Linked DNA regions of Homo sapiens: region 1 is linked to region 2. Evidence: fine-mapped expression QTL. A gene starts in region 2. The other region holds a variant in brackets. All regions are shown on one strand. Distances are from middle to middle.

Region 1 (5,363 bases), 67 kb before region 2:
GTAATCCCAGCTACTTGGGAGGCTGATGCAGGAGAATCCCTTGAACCCAGGGGGTAGAGGTTGCCATGAGCCGAGATCGCGCCAAAATAATTCAAAGACTGTTGTGACTGGAAACTTGCTATGTTCTGAATGTGGAGCCCTAGGCTCCTTGCCACCTGGGGATTTTGGAAATGGTGTCTGAGCCTATGAGAGTGTTTGAAACCCAGCCAGTTGCAAAGAACTGAAATGCTGTCTTTCCTTACTCCACACGCTGCCCCATAGTTTCTCTCCTTTTGGTCCAGCTCCTTTATGTCCCTGCCTTCTGTGTTTACTTGCCCAAGATAGCTTCTTCTGAGCCATTTCTGTGTGGGGCAGCCCCTTCCACATCTTACCAGTGCCCTTCCATGCCTTAGGAGCCCATCTTCTCTCCAAACTCTGACACTACATTGGTCTAGGCCTTGATCTCTCTCACCCAGATTCTCAACCATTCTGCATGCTATCTTAGAGTAATCTTCCCACTGGCCAGAACTGACCACATCACCTTCCCTTTTGAAACTCTTTATGGTTCTCATGGCCCACAGGGAGAGTCTAAGTGCCACGGCATCATACCTGATGCCTCTGTAGCTTTGTTTTCACTCCATCCTTCCTGTGTTTGTGTGTTCTGGTCACACTAACTGCTGTATAAAGTCTTTCCTGACCCCTCCTATGCCCTCACTCAGTCCACAGAGTTCTTCTGTAGTGACCCAGACCTGAGTATTCACTGCCCTCAAAGGGTCCTTGATGGCTTGTACCCCTCCCCCAGGTAGAAGAGCCTCATGCTCATCCTTGGTCCTGCCTACATCAGTGTTTATGGAACGAGAGATGAACACAGGGCCCTCCTCCTCATGGACATGCTTTGCTCAGTTGAGTGTTCCTAGAGCACCTCATAGTTCTTGAAGGAAACTCTGAAAGGGGAGAGGCTTGTGGGCAGGTCGAGCAACCTTATCAGAATGACCCTCTTTGTCCCCAGGCCCCAGTGCAGAGAGCCCACGGCCATCCAGTGCCTACAATGGGGACCTCAATGGACTTCTGGTCCCAGACCCGCTCTGCTCAGGTGATAGTACCTCAGCAAACAAGACTGGTCTTCGGACCATGCCACCCATTAACCTGCAAGAGAAGCAGGTCATGTGAGTACCTAGGAGACGACAATAGTGGTGATGGTGTATTTGGGGTGTCTGCTAGCTGAAGGCATGAGATGGGGAGTGAGCGGGGCCAGCAGCCTCTGCTGCTTCCTCTCTAGATGACCTGGGGTGGAGCTTGAGCTTGCACTAGGATGAGAGGCAAGGACAAGCTCAGGGGTTTGGCCTGGATACCTGGTTTAGAATGAAAGTAGGCTCATTCCCAAGGAAGGAGATGAGCAAGCAGAGCTGTGGGTCTGGGGCCAGTGGACCAGGCGAAGCTGACATTGGACTAGATACCTTCCCCAGTCTGGCTATGTCCTCGCTTCCTCCCAACCCTGCCCGCTGAGCCTTTGGGTGAACAAGAGGCAAAGTTTTTGCACTCTTCCCCACAGCTGTCTCTCAGGAGATGATAGCTCCACCTGCATTGGGATTTTGGCCAAGGAGGTGGAGATTGTGGCTAGCAGTGACTCTAGCATTTCAAGCAAGGCCCGGGGAAGCAACAAGGTAGGTACTGGGATGCTGTGGCATATATAATGTACGGGGGCACACCCAGCCTTTCCAGTCTCCCTCATGCTGCCAGTTCCTATGGGGACCACCTTGACACTTTCCCAGTTTCAGGAAGCCAGGGCTGGGTGCCAAGCCTCTGTGGGAGTCTGGCTCCAGGAGGTAACAGTGGGTAGCTGGACTTGCATCTGTGTCCTCTCCCATCCCCAGGGATGTTGGGGGCCACCTAGGCTCTGGGGAAGTTCCATGACTTTTCTCACCCTGGGTTCTCAGGTGAAAATTCAGCCTGTCGCCAAGTATGACTGGGAACAGAAGTACTACTATGGCAACCTGATTGCTGTGTCTAACTCCTTCTTGGCCTATGCCATTCGGGGTGAGTAAAGACAGTGAGGAGGAAGGAATGTTCTGCTGGATGTCCCACAGAGCCAGTTCCAACATCAGGCCACTCAGGCCTTAGGGGTACAATGGAAGGTTTGTCCATGCTGCCTCTTGGGGAGCTGGGTGGGAAAACCAAGCTTGAGACTCTGGTGGTGGCAGGGAGACAGGTGGGGCAGCGCTTCTCTGCTACTGCCTGAGCCTGGATACGTATTCATGGTCCACTGCTCTCCTGATTCCAGCTGCCAACAATGGCTCTGCCATGGTGCGGGTGATCAGCGTCAGCACTTCGGAGCGGACCTTGCTCAAGGGCTTCACAGGCAGTGTGGCTGATCTGGCTTTCGCGCACCTCAACTCTCCACAGCTGGCCTGCCTGGATGAGGCAGGCAACCTGTTCGTGTGGCGCTTGGCTCTGGTTAATGGCAAAATTCAGTATCCATTCCTTCCTGTGGGTGGTGGGACTGAAGAAGGGTGGGCGGAGCTGGGGTGTCACGCCTCTTCATTCATCTATCTAGCCCTTAACACCCTGCTCAGAGAAGAGATCTTGGTCCATATTCGGCAGCCAGAGGGCACGCCACTGAACCACTTTCGCAGGATCATCTGGTGCCCCTTCATCCCTGAGGAGAGCGAAGACTGCTG[T/C]GAGGAGAGCAGCCCAACAGTGGCCCTGCTGCATGAAGACCGGGTGAGGGGGCTGACATGGCGAAGAGGCGCCAGAGAAGCCATAGTGTGGGGTTGGGCTGCACACTCACCTCCCTGTGCCTTCCAGGCTGAGGTGTGGGACCTGGACATGCTCCGCTCCAGCCACAGTACCTGGCCTGTGGATGTTAGCCAGATCAAGCAGGGCTTCATTGTGGTAAAAGGTCATAGCACGGTAAGCCTGTGACTGCCTGCCTCCCCTGCCCTCCCCACTTCCTCATATCCATCTTCTGTTCCCTATATCCACAGCTGCCCGGGCAGCTTTACTAGCATTCTGCCCGTGGGGACTCTGAGCTCAAATTGGCCCTCACCTGTGCAGCTTTCTCCTTATCTAGCAGCACCCTGCAGGTCTGGCCTTCTCTAGGAACCCTGTTCATTTAGTCAGTCACACAAGCATGCCAGTCCCACCGTGAGTCAGCCCAGCTCATTGCCATCCTCACTTGGGAGGGGCTTGTTCTCACCTCTAGTCAGCAAAGCTTTTTGGGTTCTTTCTAGTGCCTCAGTGAAGGAGCCCTCTCTCCTGATGGGACTGTGCTGGCTACTGCGAGCCACGATGGCTATGTCAAGTTCTGGCAGATCTACATTGAGGGGCAAGATGAGCCAAGGTAAGGCAGGGCCTCAGGGACCAGGATCCTCCCGAGGTAGCCCACCCGACCACTCACTCAGGCCCCTCATCTGCCTACCTGCAGGTGTCTGCACGAGTGGAAACCTCATGATGGGCGGCCCCTCTCCTGCCTCCTGTTCTGTGACAACCATAAGAAACAAGACCCTGAGTGAGTGAGTGGGCAGCCTAGTGGGTGGTGGGCTGGACCATGGCTCCCAGCAGGGGCCCCAGCCAGTCACTCACTGCCTTGTTGCCTTGCAGTGTCCCTTTCTGGAGGTTCCTTATTACTGGTGCTGACCAGAACCGAGAGTTAAAGATGTGGTGTACAGTATCCTGGACCTGCCTGCAGACTATTCGGTAAGCAGTGGCTGGAAGGCTGGGGGACTGGGCAGGGGCGGCAGGGTTGGGAATGTAGCTTCCTTCAGTTCTCAGGCTCATTCACTCTGCTTTGTGGCTCTCTAGCTTCTCCCCAGATATCTTCAGCTCAGTGAGTGTGCCCCCTAGCCTCAAGGTTTGCTTGGACCTCTCAGCAGAATACCTGATTCTCAGCGATGTGCAACGGAAGGTAGGCTGCCATGGGGTACCCTGGGCAGAGTTGGGATTATAGAGGAAGGCCGGGGGGCAGGTGGCGCATCACAGCCCTTAGCCTCTGAGCTCAGCTAGGAACGTTCTGCCTGTGCAGGTCCTCTATGTGATGGAGCTGCTGCAAAACCAGGAGGAGGGCCACGCCTGCTTCAGCTCCATCTCGGAGTTCCTGCTCACCCACCCTGTGCTGAGCTTTGGTATCCAGGTTGTGAGTCGCTGCCGGCTACGGCACACTGAGGTGCTGCCTGCCGAAGAGGAAAATGACAGCCTGGGTGCTGGTGAGCTGCCTCAGGGTCAGAGCTATGTGTCCATATATCTAGGGGGTTGTGGAGGCACAGAGAGGGCCAGGGGCTTCATCATCCACACTGTCCTTTCAGATGGTACCCATGGAGCCGGTGCCATGGAGTCTGCGGCCGGTGTGCTCATCAAGCTCTTTTGTGTGCATACTAAGTGAGTGAGTGGGGAGGCCCGCCAGTGTCCTGTCTGTGTCTGTCTCCACTCTACTGACCCTTGCCCTTGGAGCACTTTATTCTCCCCCTTCTTTTCCTGCAGGGCACTGCAAGATGTGCAGATCCGCTTCCAGCCACAGCTGAACCCTGATGTGGTGGCCCCACTGCCCACCCACACTGCCCACGAGGACTTCAGTGAGTAGGGCGTGAGAGGGAGGTAGGGTAAGTTGGACTGACCAGGGTCTGAGATCTAACTCAAGTGGCAACTTGCCCTGCAGCATTTGGAGAGTCTCGGCCCGAACTGGGCTCTGAGGGCCTGGGGTCAGCCGCTCACGGCTCCCAGCCTGACCTCCGACGAATCGTGGAGCTGCCTGCACCTGCCGACTTCCTCAGTCTGAGCAGTGAGACCAAGCCCAAGTTGATGACACCTGACGCCTTCATGACACCTAGCGCCTCCTTGCAGCAGGTACTCTCCCAGGGTAGGGGGACCTGGGAATGCCTCAGCCACAGGCCACAGGTCTTATTTCCTGCATCTCCCCAGATCACTGCCTCTCCCAGCAGCAGCAGCAGCGGTAGCAGCAGCAGCAGCAGCAGTAGCAGCAGCTCCCTTACAGCTGTGTCTGCCATGAGCAGCACCTCAGCTGTGGACCCCTCCTTGACCAGGTGAGGCAAGGGTCAGAGATGGAGGATGGCAGGGGCTGGTACCAGATGATGCCAAGCTCTGGCTGCTGACACCTCAGCCTTCCCCCACCAGGCCACCTGAGGAGCTGACCTTGAGCCCCAAGCTGCAGCTGGATGGCAGCCTGACAATGAGCAGCAGTGGCAGCCTTCAGGCAAGCCCGCGTGGCCTCCTGCCTGGCCTGCTCCCAGCCCCAGCTGACAAACTGACTCCCAAGGGGCCGGGCCAGGTGTGTGACTGGGTGTGTGTGTGAAGTGTGGGGAGCAGGTGGGCAGCAGCAGGGAAGGTGGGTGGTGGGCTCCTCCCAGCCCCCTGCTGCTGATCCTGCTCTA
Region 2 (5,363 bases):
GTGTTGTGTGCCTATAGTCTCAGCTAACCAGGAGGCTGAGGCAGGAGGATTGCTTGGGCCAGGGAGATTGAGACTGCGGCTATGATCACGCCACTGCACTCCAGCCTGGGCGACAGAATGACCCTGTCTGAAAAAGAAAAAAAAAAGTAGGCGGGGCTTCCTGAGGACCAGGGTGTGTGGGGATGGTGGGTGAGGCCCAGGATGTGTGGGGATGGTGGGGGCGGTGCTGGCTGTCCTCCCTCGGGCATGTGTCTTTCTGCTCCTTGTGTGGCTTATGCAGCAATGGGGGCCACAGAGTTGTGCTCCAGAAAGGGGGAAACAAGATGGTGTCTGTTTGATGTTTATTGGTGGTGTCTGATGAGCGTTTCTCTTGTCCAGACTGTGTTTCTCTCTCCAGACCAGCTCCCAGGGTACAGGGGGTGGGGAGTAGGTGGTAGCTGTGTCAGTGCTGGGCCCTGGTGCCACTCCCTAGGGAAGAGCAGGTGGGGCCTCGGGGGGTCTGGCCCTAGCTCTGGCAGATCCATCCTCAGTGAAGCACATCCCTGGGCAAAGGCACTCCTGCGAGCAAGTGGAAGGCAGGCAAGGGCTGGGCAGGCAGGCTCTGGGGCTACAAGAACAAACCCTGGGAGCAGATAGCTGGGATTCACTTTCTGTGTTCACTGCCCCTTTGCCATCACTGACACAGACTCTGGAAGGAGCCACCCTAATTGCTCAGGCCAGGGTCACTGCTCTGGGGGCCAGTGACAGCAAGCATGCCAGCCCAGGAGTGGTAGATAGCACCCCTAGAGGCCACTGTGAGCAGGAGCCGCAATGAAGGCAGGCCCAGGATCAGCTTGGTCTCACCCATCGCTGGACCTAAGTGTTCGAGGCCTTCTCACCTGAGGCCAAGACCAGCATGGGCTTGATGGAGCCACCCCAGGGAGCCCCAAGAGAGATGAAGCCATCAATAAAGCGGTCCTTCCAGGCCTGGGGCTGGCGCAGCAGGAAATAGAGCAAGTGTAGACAGCCGAGGCTGTGGCCAATGAGGAAGACAGGCTTCCCATAGGCAGCGTGCATCTCCTCCACCAGCCCTGCGAGCTTGCGGTAGTACTCCTCCTGCTGGCCTGCAGCGGGTGGAAGGGGTCAGGGCAGCTGGGGTCTGGGGCACCTGCCCCACCCCAAGCCGGTCATCCGCAGAGACACTCACCGGGCTCCAGCCGCCAGTCATAGGGGGCGGCGCGCACAGTCTCGTCCCGCACGTAGCCATTGTTGACCAGGTTCTGCACCAGTGTGTGCAGGTACCCTGTGGGGGGACCAGCAGCACCGGGGGCTTGGGCCATGCCTGCTGTGGGCCAGCACCCAGGCCTGGAGCCCCAGCCCTGCCCTCTGACACAAACCTGCCAGCTTGCTGCTGTCCAGGTACTCCACAGAGTAGGTCTTGCCAAAGCCAGGGACGCGGATCTGGACACCAGGGGCGTTGGACACGAGCCCAGAGCTCCGGTTGTAGACAACCCTGCGGGGCGGGGGTGCCACTCAGCAGCCAGTAGCCAAGGGGCAGCGTGTTGGGGCTAGGGTGGAGCACATGGCTGTACCTGGTGTTATCGATCCAGCAGTCTACCCCAAGGGGTAGGAACATGTTGAGATCCAGCCAGATGGTGAAGAAGTCCTCTGTCTTGCGGTAGCACATCCAGTTCACCACATCTGGTTTGTCCAGCTTGGCTTCTAGCTGATTCCCCAGGCAGCCGGGCACTGTGAGCAGCAGCCCTCACTCTGGACTCTGGATTCCCCCCGTGACCCTTACCCCCGTCACCCCAGATGCTGCAGTGACCAGACCCACCCCCCACCTCCCATACCCTCAACCCCCAGGTACAAAGCACACTTACCCTCCCCTGCTTACACCCCCTCTCCCTGCTGTCCCCCCAGTAGCCAAAGCCCAGGCTTCCCTGAGGAAGGGAAGGCGCTGAGGTGCTGAGGCCAAGGCCGCTGACCCCTGCCTCTGCAGAGCAAACACCCAGTCTGGCGCTCCTTTATTGCCAAAGTCCAAGGTGGGAACAGATAGGTCTGGGGGCATGGGGGCTGGGCCTAATAGGGGCCGGGCATGGATGGGCCTCTCCTGCTCACCGATCCTGGGCTGGGCATCTTGTCCTTGGTGGGTGGGGGCCAAGGAAGGAGTGGTGGGGCTTGGCCCAGAGTCTGGTGTGGCTGTGACTGACCACAGCTTGTGATGCCCCAGCCAAGACCTCAGGCACACCCCGTCCCCCACTCCGCCCCCCCTGGGTTAGACAACTGAGAGTCACAGTGTGGTGGGAGAAGGGACGTCATTCCTCTAAGGGACAAGCTTTTGGCCCCTCCCCACACCAGGGCAGGTACTTATGTCGGGGCTTATGCAGGGCAGAAGGGCTTTGGCCAGGTCAGCTGCCAGGGGCTGGGGCCCAGGCTCCCCAGGGTCTGGCGTGGTGCATCAGGGGCCTGGTGGGGGCTTACCGAGGATGACGGGCCGTGTGTGGTTACTGAGCTCAGCCTTGGGCGTGGTGTGCGGGGGGAAGAGCACATTGAGGAGCCAGAAGGGGGCGGCAGGAGGGAGCAGCAGCCCCAGCAGCAGCGTCACCCACTGCCATGGGGAGCCGGGCGGCCCCATTCCAGCCCTGGTGCCTACTGCCAGAGAAAGCGGCACTGGGCTGTCCTTATCTGGTGTGGGAGTGGGAGGGGCCCTAGGGCCAGTGGGAGGGACGGCCTGGCCAGTGGGGGTTGTGGCCAGAGATTGCCGGAAAGGGGCACAGCCTCAGGGAGCCGGCTCTGGGCCTGGGTTCAGTTCCGCCTTCTTCTCTTGGCGCCAGGGGAAACAGAGCCGGGGCAGCAGGAGGCCCAGAACTACACAATGTTTTATTGAAAAAGTCAGGCCTCAGCTCAGCTGTCTCCATTCGGCTCAGCTTGGTGGGGGGCCCTGCCCATAGTAGACTGAGCCAGATCTTCCTGCAGGCAGCTGGGCTGGACTCCCTCCCTGGCTACCCTTCCCTTCGTCTCTGATGGTGACATCCAAACAATAAATATGCAATAAATAGCGCTCCTGGGCTGGGCCGGGCCGGCTGCCTTCAAACCCCACTCGGCCCCTACCAGTCTTCTCTGGCCAGGACAGGCCTACTGGGGTGCTAGATAGTAAAGTCCCCAAACATCCCAGGGTCCCACAAGACCTGGGATCCATCTCCATTTTGAGGCCCAGGCCTGGTTTCCAAGGAGACCTAGCAAAGCTGGGTCCAGGACAGGGCCAGGCAAGCAGGGCTGGCAGGTGGGTGCTGGGAAGAGGCTGTTACCCCAGACCACAGCTTGTTATGTCCTGGCCAAGACCTCGACTCCAGGCCACAAGATGACACTGGGCTCAGGAGTAGATGGTGATGACTTCACGGCCACCACCGCGCACCAACAGCACCCGCTCAAGGCCCTCGGTCAGCACCTCGAGGAACTCCATGTCTGCAGGGCCTCAAGTCAAGGAGGCAACAACAGAATCAACGGGCAACCCGGGCCACCTGGGCCATGCCCACCCAGGGGTGCCCAGGAGAGAAGCCGCTGGCTTGACCTCCCATGCTATCCACCTCCCAACTGCCTGCCTCTCCACAAAGGGATACAGTTCTCGTCGCCCTCACTGTTCCTGGGTGGGCCAGGCATGTTTAGGAGAACCAGGCGGGCGTCGTGGGAGCGCGTGACAATGACTTCATTGAGCTTCACAGCAGTGTGCATGCGCCGCACATTGGATTGGTCCCTACACGTAGTGTAGCCAGTCACAGGTCGCCATGAGCCATCCTGCAAGGAGGGTCCCCACCCCTGGCCCATCTAACACTACTTGTCTGCCCCACCCCACCTCCACCCCTAGATTCCAGTGCCGCTGGGGCTGTTTTTGCTGCACTCACGGCTTAATGTGCACCAGCTCCCGGAAATTGTCAGGGGCATGGCTGGGGTCCCAGGTCTCAGTCATGTACTTGTCCCTGGTCCACGTCATCTGGATCTTGTCAGCCCCCACTGCAGACTCATCTTCCTCGTCCGAGTACAGGCTCTCCAGCCGCAGGGCCGAGTGCCGATCCTTGACCAGCTGGGCCTGAGGACAATTGCAGGAGATAGCCTTGGTCCCATAGGAAAAGGGGGATGGGGCCTGTCTGGCCCAATGTGACCACCTTGCCTCCGGGAAATGAGCACTAGCTTGGGTAGGGCTGCGGTGAGTCATTCTGATTCCTCCGCACCCACCGATGCGGTCTCCAAAGGCCTGACCCTGCCACCCGCCCTGGCGTGAACCACAAAGGGCACTGACTTCTCGCTCCCGCTCAGTCTTGGTCAGTCTCATCTGCCGCAGCATCTGCGACCGCTGCTCCATCATCAGCGTCCGCTCGTAGGTGTATGCAGAGATGTCACTGTTATGCTGGGGACAGGGTTGGCCGTGAGGACCCAGCTGCACGGGACATGGTATCCACGGGGCCAGGGCAGGGCAGAGGGCTCACCATCTCCACCACCTCCACCTCGGCCTCAAGGCGCAGATGGTACAGAAAGACAGCCAGGTCCTTCTTCATCTGGATGCTGTTGTCATCCATCTGGGCCACTGTGAAGATGCGCATCCGGCACTTCCTCCAGACCTGAGGCAAGGGACCAGGTGGGCGGTTTGGTCACAGCTGCTCCTCCAAGGGCCTAGCCCCTCTCATCTGCACCCACCCCCTGGTCTACCTTATGCTGGCGCAGCAGGAAGGGCAGAAGCATGAGCATGCCACCATCGTGCACGATCCACCACACGTCTATGTGGCCCTCCAGGTAGCGCTCGTGGTTGCTGGGGTAGAAGGCGATGTTCTTGGGCACGAGCAGGGCCAGGTGGGCAGCCGTAGTGCAGCGCACGGTGTCTGGGGAGGAGGAGCACGGCTGACCACCAGTCTGTGGCCCTCCGCCCACTGCCACCTCACTTCACCCCTGCCCACCAGGCCCCAGGCCTTCACACACCAATGAAGGTCTTCCAGGCACGGGGGTCCTCGCTCTGTCGCCAGCCGTAGGGCCAGCCCAGCACCACGGAGTTATGCCGCATGCCTCCCAGGCCACAGGACTGGATGAGGTGGGCCAGCCCCTCCCGCACCTTGCTGGCCACCACCACCTGGCAGAAGCCCTTCACCTTCTCAATTTCCATCATGTTCTTGATGGTCTGTGGGGAACACACCCAGGGCCAATGGGAGGCCATCAGCTTCCTGCCTCTGGGCTCCCTCCCAAGGCCCCTCGGGAACAAAACGACTTTTGGGTGGAGGAGGGCCTGGGGGCAACAAGCTGCCTACCCAGAGGCCAAGTTTTCAAGATGGGACTGCTGGCTCCCCCTTGTGCCAGCTCTCAGGTGGCAGCAGTGCTGGCTGCCTGGCTGGCCA

Evidence for each region. PIP is the estimated chance that this variant, and not a neighbour inherited with it, causes the effect. A credible set is the group of variants that fine-mapping cannot tell apart.
Region 1: its variant is the best candidate, but not a certain one, in a credible set for the expression of LCAT in tibial artery (GTEx, PIP 0.85).

What each region holds. Positions count from the first base shown.
Region 1 is chr16:67,874,957-67,880,319 of GRCh38, forward strand. EDC4 (enhancer of mRNA decapping 4) reads left to right here. Exons shown (of 29, transcript NM_014329.5): 2 at 989-1,145; 3 at 1,532-1,643; 4 at 1,917-2,016; 5 at 2,261-2,450; 6 at 2,553-2,700; 7 at 2,785-2,889; 8 at 3,210-3,319; 9 at 3,404-3,487; 10 at 3,580-3,675; 11 at 3,781-3,883; 12 at 4,001-4,181; 13 at 4,281-4,353; 14 at 4,456-4,547; 15 at 4,631-4,818; 2 more. Among named protein-coding and RNA genes, the nearest start is that of EDC4, 4.6 kb to the left of the region's middle. The variant T/C (reference allele first, on the strand shown) is at 2,658.
Region 2 is chr16:67,941,485-67,946,847 of GRCh38, forward strand. LCAT (lecithin-cholesterol acyltransferase) reads right to left here and starts at 2,636. Exons shown (of 6, transcript NM_000229.2): 1 at 2,464-2,636; 2 at 1,572-1,728; 3 at 1,377-1,492; 4 at 1,187-1,282; 5 at 879-1,103. The coding sequence starts at 2,617. It overlaps SLC12A4 (solute carrier family 12 member 4), which reads right to left. Exons shown (of 24, transcript NM_005072.5): 18 at 4,954-5,149; 19 at 4,687-4,856; 20 at 4,467-4,598; 21 at 4,280-4,387; 22 at 3,885-4,069; 23 at 3,603-3,736; 24 at 1,990-3,447. The coding sequence ends at 3,356. RefSeq lists enhancers at 835-884, 868-1,767.